Linked DNA regions of Homo sapiens: region 1 is linked to region 2. The links come from fine-mapping of genetic effects on gene expression. A gene starts in region 2. The other region holds a variant in brackets. All regions are shown on one strand. Distances are from middle to middle. Region 1 overlaps LINC02691 (long intergenic non-protein coding RNA 2691). Region 2 holds the start of CLBA1 (clathrin binding box of aftiphilin containing 1).

What was found. PIP is the estimated chance that this variant, and not a neighbour inherited with it, causes the effect.
Region 1: its variant is fine-mapped to the expression of CLBA1 in ileum (GTEx, PIP 0.92).

What each region holds. Positions count from the first base shown.
Region 1 is chr14:104,228,327-104,231,220 of GRCh38, forward strand. All of the region lies in intron 1 of LINC02691 (long intergenic non-protein coding RNA 2691), which reads left to right. Among named protein-coding and RNA genes, the nearest start is that of LINC02691, 6.2 kb to the left of the region's middle. The variant G/A (reference allele first, on the strand shown) is at 1,458.
Region 2 is chr14:104,984,355-104,987,248 of GRCh38, forward strand. CLBA1 (clathrin binding box of aftiphilin containing 1) reads left to right here and starts at 1,434. Exons shown (of 5, transcript NM_174891.4): 1 at 1,434-2,500. The coding sequence starts at 2,078. RefSeq lists a silencer at 1,223-1,692.

The DNA of each region.
Region 1 (2,894 bases), 760 kb before region 2:
ACCAGAGGGCTTGAGCAGAGGTGACGTGACCAGATCCTTCCTGTGTTCCTGTGAGGATGGGTAGACAGGGCCCCCTGGGAGCTCACAGAGGTGGAGTACTTTGCCCAAGGTGGCGAGAGGGGACGCCCGCAGCCTGGGTCCCAGTGCAGCCCTTGTTCCCATGGGTCCAGATTCCTGAGCCTCACCCACCCCTCCCTCACCACTGCCACCTGGCCAGTAGCCACAGGTGGCTTCCAGAGCACTCTCTTACCGTCCCCCAGGGTTTTCTGGGTACTGACCTTCTCTCTCTCACTTGGGATACCCACCCCTATCAGGGAAATCAGGGGAGGCACTATTGTCTCCTTTACAGAGGAGTAAACTGAGGCTGGGTTAACATTACTTGTTCAAGTCACTCAGCTAAGACGGGCAGTGCTGGGATTTGAACCCAGCTCTGCCTGGCTTCTGAGCCTGAGCTGACTTCAGTGCCCGGCCCCCAGATCTGCACACCAGTGTGCCCCAACTGCCTGGTGAGTGGCCAGGCCAGAGGGAAGCAGGGAGCAGGGTGGGCCCAAGGCGAGGCTCAGCGAGAAGGCAGGAGCAGTAGCCGTGGGGCAGCACTTGGGGTATGTGGGCCATGGGGAAATGGGCACCAGGGGTAGAGCCCCTTTGGGGGGCTGTGGAGGGGGAGCAGCGGGGAGTGCAAGGGGATGTGACACAAGCCCCTTCTGAGGGAGGACTTGGTGGCCGGTTGCTCTTGAGTGGTGCCTGCCTCAAGGCCTGGGCTGTGTCCTGCCCTCCTGCTGCCCCGGCCACCTCTGACAGACCCTGCTAACTGTGGTCAGCCTGGCAGGGCTGGCATGGCAGAGCAGGCCTGTGGTGCCACCCTGACCTGGCCACTGTGGTCCTTATCCTGGGTCAGGAGCCGTCCCCGCCCCAGGCCCATGTTTTCCATCTGCCGGGGACCCTGCCCAGGAGGGGCACATGTAATGCTAGCCTCGTTGTGCAGGGCGGCTCCTGGCTGAGGCCTTGACTGAACTTGCATCTACATTTAGACTGAAATGCACCGAGAGGCTGGGCCTGCTGTGTCCCAGGGGCTGCGGACGGGGTGTCCATCCTGCCTGGGTAGGATGCATCTGCAGGGTGCCTCCCACCACACGCTAAAGTGGGGTCATCACCCCTGGGTGGCCTGGGTCACCAAGATGCTACCCCACCCAGCCTGATGGGATGCCTGAGCTCCAAGCCTGCCCCCTCACAGGGGAGATGATGGCCCCACGAAGGCCCCCCTGGGTGCTTGTGGTGGCCGCTCACTCAGTCTCTCTCTCTCCAAAGCGGCCTGCCCGTCCGCGAAGTCACTTAGCTGGGATCTAATCGGGTTTCACAGGGGCATAAATTACTTGGCTAGAGGTTGTTCCCGGGTGTTTCCACCCCGGGCCTGTTATTTACACACCGTGCGGTAATGTAGTCACGGCCTTGGGTGC[G/A]CAGTATTTATGGTGTTTGATCGGCTTCCAGCCCAGGCCGCCTGTCCAGGAACATTTGTTGAGATGTTGTGCAGAGCCGCTGGGGACCTCTGCCACAGGCGGGCATCAATCTACCTGGAGCTCCTGCGGCAGCCCTGCAGAGCCTCAAAAGGGCAGGGCGGGCCTGTGGTGCCACCCTGAGCTGGTCACTGTCTGCAGATGGCAGCTCTAGGAGTGATGGCTGAGGACGAACAAGGGTGCGAACTGTCACTGACATTTCCGTGGGGCGTGGACGTGACACATCCCGAATGCCATACCTGGCTGTGGACAGTCGCACCGTTAAAGGCAGCAGCGCTAACTGCCGTTCACGGAGCACCCACTGTCTGCTAAGCTCAGTGGAAGATCCTTTGTTTTATTCTCTCCGTGAGTGCTTGTCGCAGCCCTGCAAGGTAGGTGTCCCTGATGGGAAACTGAGGCTCAGTCACTGCAGGTGACTTCCCAAAGGAACACAGCCTGGGAGCTCCATGTGGCAGCTTCCTCTGGCTCTTACAAGGGGAAGGATGAGCTCCCGTTGGTTGCTGGGGTCCCGCCCCTTTGCCTTCATGTCTGTGATGGTGGAAATGCTTCATAAGGAGTGTAAAGTGGTTTTTGTTCCCGACCCAGAGAGATCTGGTCACGGTAATTCTGTATCTGCTTGCCTATATTTATCCCCCAAGTCCGGCTGGTGACAGGGAAGCAGATGATCAGTGCCAGGCCTGATAAATTGGACCCAGGGCTGAGGCGGGAGAGAAACCCTGTTTTATTGTTGAAGACAAAGCCGTCGGGCAGGAGGCATATGTTGTGTTGGAGCCCTCGCTGCGACGGAGGCCCTGGGCCTCAGAGCAATCAGGGCTTTCACGAGCACCCCCCACCCACTACCTACGTGGGAGGCAAGGACCCCCATTAGCCCGGCTGGCTGTGGGGGAGGGGCTGACAGAATGTCAGTGGGGTGGAGGGGAGAGGAGGTGATCAATGAGGACTTATTGACTTGCATCTTTCCCCACGACTTGATTAAGACCACTATGGAGATGAGGCCTGAGGAGGGGGCTAGGGCCAGAGCCCCGGGCCAGTGTGGCTTAGGGGATCTTTTATGTTTGGAGGGCAGGAAGGGAACAGAGAGCTGCCGGCTTTGTCAGATGCCTGAAGAGTATTGATCCATATTAGAAATGATAATGAGCCAATTCTGCTGGGCTGGGAGGCCTTAACCATTTCATTGCTTACAAGGCTGTCCTGGTGGGGATGTTGGAGGAGGCTCAGCCTCTAGCTGCTCCTCACCATGTTTCTCCTCGCTCAGGTCTGCAGCTTCCCAGGCCACGACCTGAGTCCACTGATGGTCCTGGAGGTCTGGCCAGAGGGGCAAGGGCAGCAAAGGAGAGGAGCACAGGACTGGGAGCTGGAGCCTGGTTCTGGGATTGGCTA
Region 2 (2,894 bases):
GGTCTACAAACCCAGCCAGCTCCTGATCACCATCCTTAGGGTCACTGCGGTGCTGGGGTGGCCAAGCCAAGATCCAGTCCTGGGCAGTCTGACCGAAGAGCTTCCATACTGCATGGCCCGGCTGCTCTGCCCCTCAGGAAGGAGCGGGGACAGGAGGCTGGGTCTAAGGTGCAGAGAATGATCTCATCTTGTCATTTGTAAAATTAAATTGTTCTGTAGCTTGGCTGAGAAGGACCAGGGAGGGAAGGGGTGATTCAAGCAAGGACAGAGTCCAGGCAGGGCCCCAGGCCCCAGGGTGGGAGAAATGCGAGCCTGAGGTAGATAGGGGGTGGACAGTAGGTGGCATGGTTCAGGGCTTCACCAGGGCCAGGCCCTCCCCTTACCCAGAGGAGGCAGTGATGGGGGCCAGTCTGGGAAGGCCAGGGAGGAGATGGAGTCAAGGTTGACTCCTTGAGTCTGGGGGTGAGGGCAGATGGCAGAAGGCCTGGAAGCCCGGAGGGGAGCTGCCAGAGGCCAGCCTAGCTCCTTGGTCGTCCAGTGGCTGGAGAGGGGCTGTCCGTCAGCCCTGCTCTGCCCGGGTCTGGCTGGTGACAAAGGAGGGGAGCACTCCATGCGGCCTGCGAGGGAGGGGTGGAGCCTCCCCGCAGCTCCTTCCCCCAGGAATGGGGACGAGTTAGGGGCGGGCGAGGTTTTGGGATTCAGGAGTCAGCAAGACGGACTTGGCTCTCGCCAGGGACAGGTGGGGTCCTGAGGGGCCGTCGCTCAGCTGCACCCACAGAGGGGTCGGCGGCGCGGCAAGTTAGGCTGCGGGGCGCCGGGAGAAGGGGCTGCGGGTGACGGGTGCGCTGGGACGGACCTGGGGAGCTCGTCGTGAGGAAGAAAGAACCACTCTAGGGCCAGGCCCAGTGGCTCAAGCCTGTAATCCCAGCACTTTGGGAGGCCGAGGCGGGCGGATCACGAGGTCAGGAAATCGAGACCATCCTGGCTAACACGGTGAAACCCAGTCTCTATTAAAATACAAAAAAATCAGCCGGGCGTGGTGGCGGGCGCCTGTAGTCCCAGCTACTCGGGAGGCTGAGGCAGGAGAATGGCGTGAACCCGGGAGGCGGAGCTTGCAGTGAGTCGAGATCGCGCCACTGCTCTCCAGCCTGGGCGACAGAGCGAGACTCCGTCTCAAAAAAAAAAGAAAAAAAAAAAAAAGAAAGAACCACTCGGGCGGCGAACTGAGCACGGACAGAAAGCTCGAGCGGCCCGGCGCCCAGGGCTCGGCCAGTGTGGAAGCCCGATCCCACCCGCAGCGGAGGCGGCCCGGGGCAGGGAGGGCGGGTCCGGGGCGGGTCCTGAACGGCGGGGGCCGGCGCTGGCCTCGCCCCGGATGCGTGCTGACGCCACGGCGACGGACGCCGGAAGCGGAGCTGGCGCACGCCGTTGCCAGGCAACGGGGCGGCGCAGGCAGGAGGGAACGGCTGGTTGCAGGTTTCTCTCGCCCTGGTCCCGCGCGGCCCCGCCGAGGCGGCGACCAAGGTGGGTGCGGGGACTCTCGGGAGCCGTGGGCCAGGCGCTTAGCCGGCCACCTCGGGCCCTGTCCAGGCCCAGGCGTTCCAGGGCTGCTCTGCGGGCCGCGTGCGAGAGGGACTCTCGGGAGGCCCCGGGGCGCCGCACCCACTCCTTCCCACTTGGGACTCCCGCGGGCGCCCGGCTCTCGCTCCTCTGGCCAGCGTGGGCCTCCCAGGCCCCCTCGCGGCTCTCTCCAGAGCAGGAGCCCCACCTTGGGCCGCCCCTCTCACACCTGCCGTGGGTCTGGTACGCGCCTCTGTGTCGGACTCCGCGCCCGCCTGCGTGGGAGGAAGCCAGGACTCCCGGGCGACCGGGCCATTCCTGTGGTTTGTGTCAGTTCCACAGCAGCACGTGGGCACTTTCCACCGTCAGCCACTGGGCAGCCCGGGGCACTCCTGCAGCGTCCCCTGGCCCTCTCCAGGGCAGGGGAAGGTTGGGCAGTCCTGGGCGGCCAGCACCCCGGCGTGCATGTCTCCTGAGCAGCTGCCCATCGGGCCTCTGCTGGCCTGGGGGCTCCAAGATGCAAGGCCGGCGGGAGCTGGGGGGAGAGCCTTTGAGTGACCTCCAGGAGGAAGCAGCCAGCGCTTCCCTCCGAGTGGCACCTGAGAGGCTGAGTGATGACAGTTTGGAATGGAGACGGACCTGCCCCGACCTTCTCCTGTCCGATGGGAAAGCCAGCATCTCCATGCCCCGTGAGGGCGGTTCCACCTGCACTGCCCGATGTCCTGACCCTGGGGAACACAGCAGCACTTGGGGGGAGTTTGAAGGCTTTCGGGAATCTTCAGCCAAGTCTGGACAATTCTCACAGTCCCTTGAACTCCTCGAGGGACCCACAGAACCCCAGCCACCGAGAACCACTTCTGCCCCAAAAGAGTGCAGTTCTCACCAACCATGCCAGGGTGGACCTTGGGTGACAGGAACTTCTGCCGTCCCACCTTCTGAGGTATTTCTGCTGTGCTGTGGTCACCATGTTGAGTGGGACGTGTACACACCAAGAGGCCTACAGCCCTCGAATGCTGTGGCGTGCTGGCCAGGGAGGGGGCTGACAGCCCCAGAGCGTCTGCTTCTCTCCTGGCCTTCGTCCCTGGCCATGTGGTTGGCAGTCCCATCCTGAGGCCAGGGAAGCAATGAGTTGGCAGAGGAGGCTGCAGAAATGGGTCACACGAAGGCCAGGTGGGGGCCACCTGAGCTGGGTCGCTCTTTCTGACCATTCCTCCCCCAGCCTGTCCATTCCCCATTGGTGGGGGCTGCACTGGCCCCAGCTCAGGGCATTTGAGGAGGAGCTTTTTGTCTGAATTCTGAATCTGCTGAGTTCAAAAGTCTCAGAGATTCTAAAA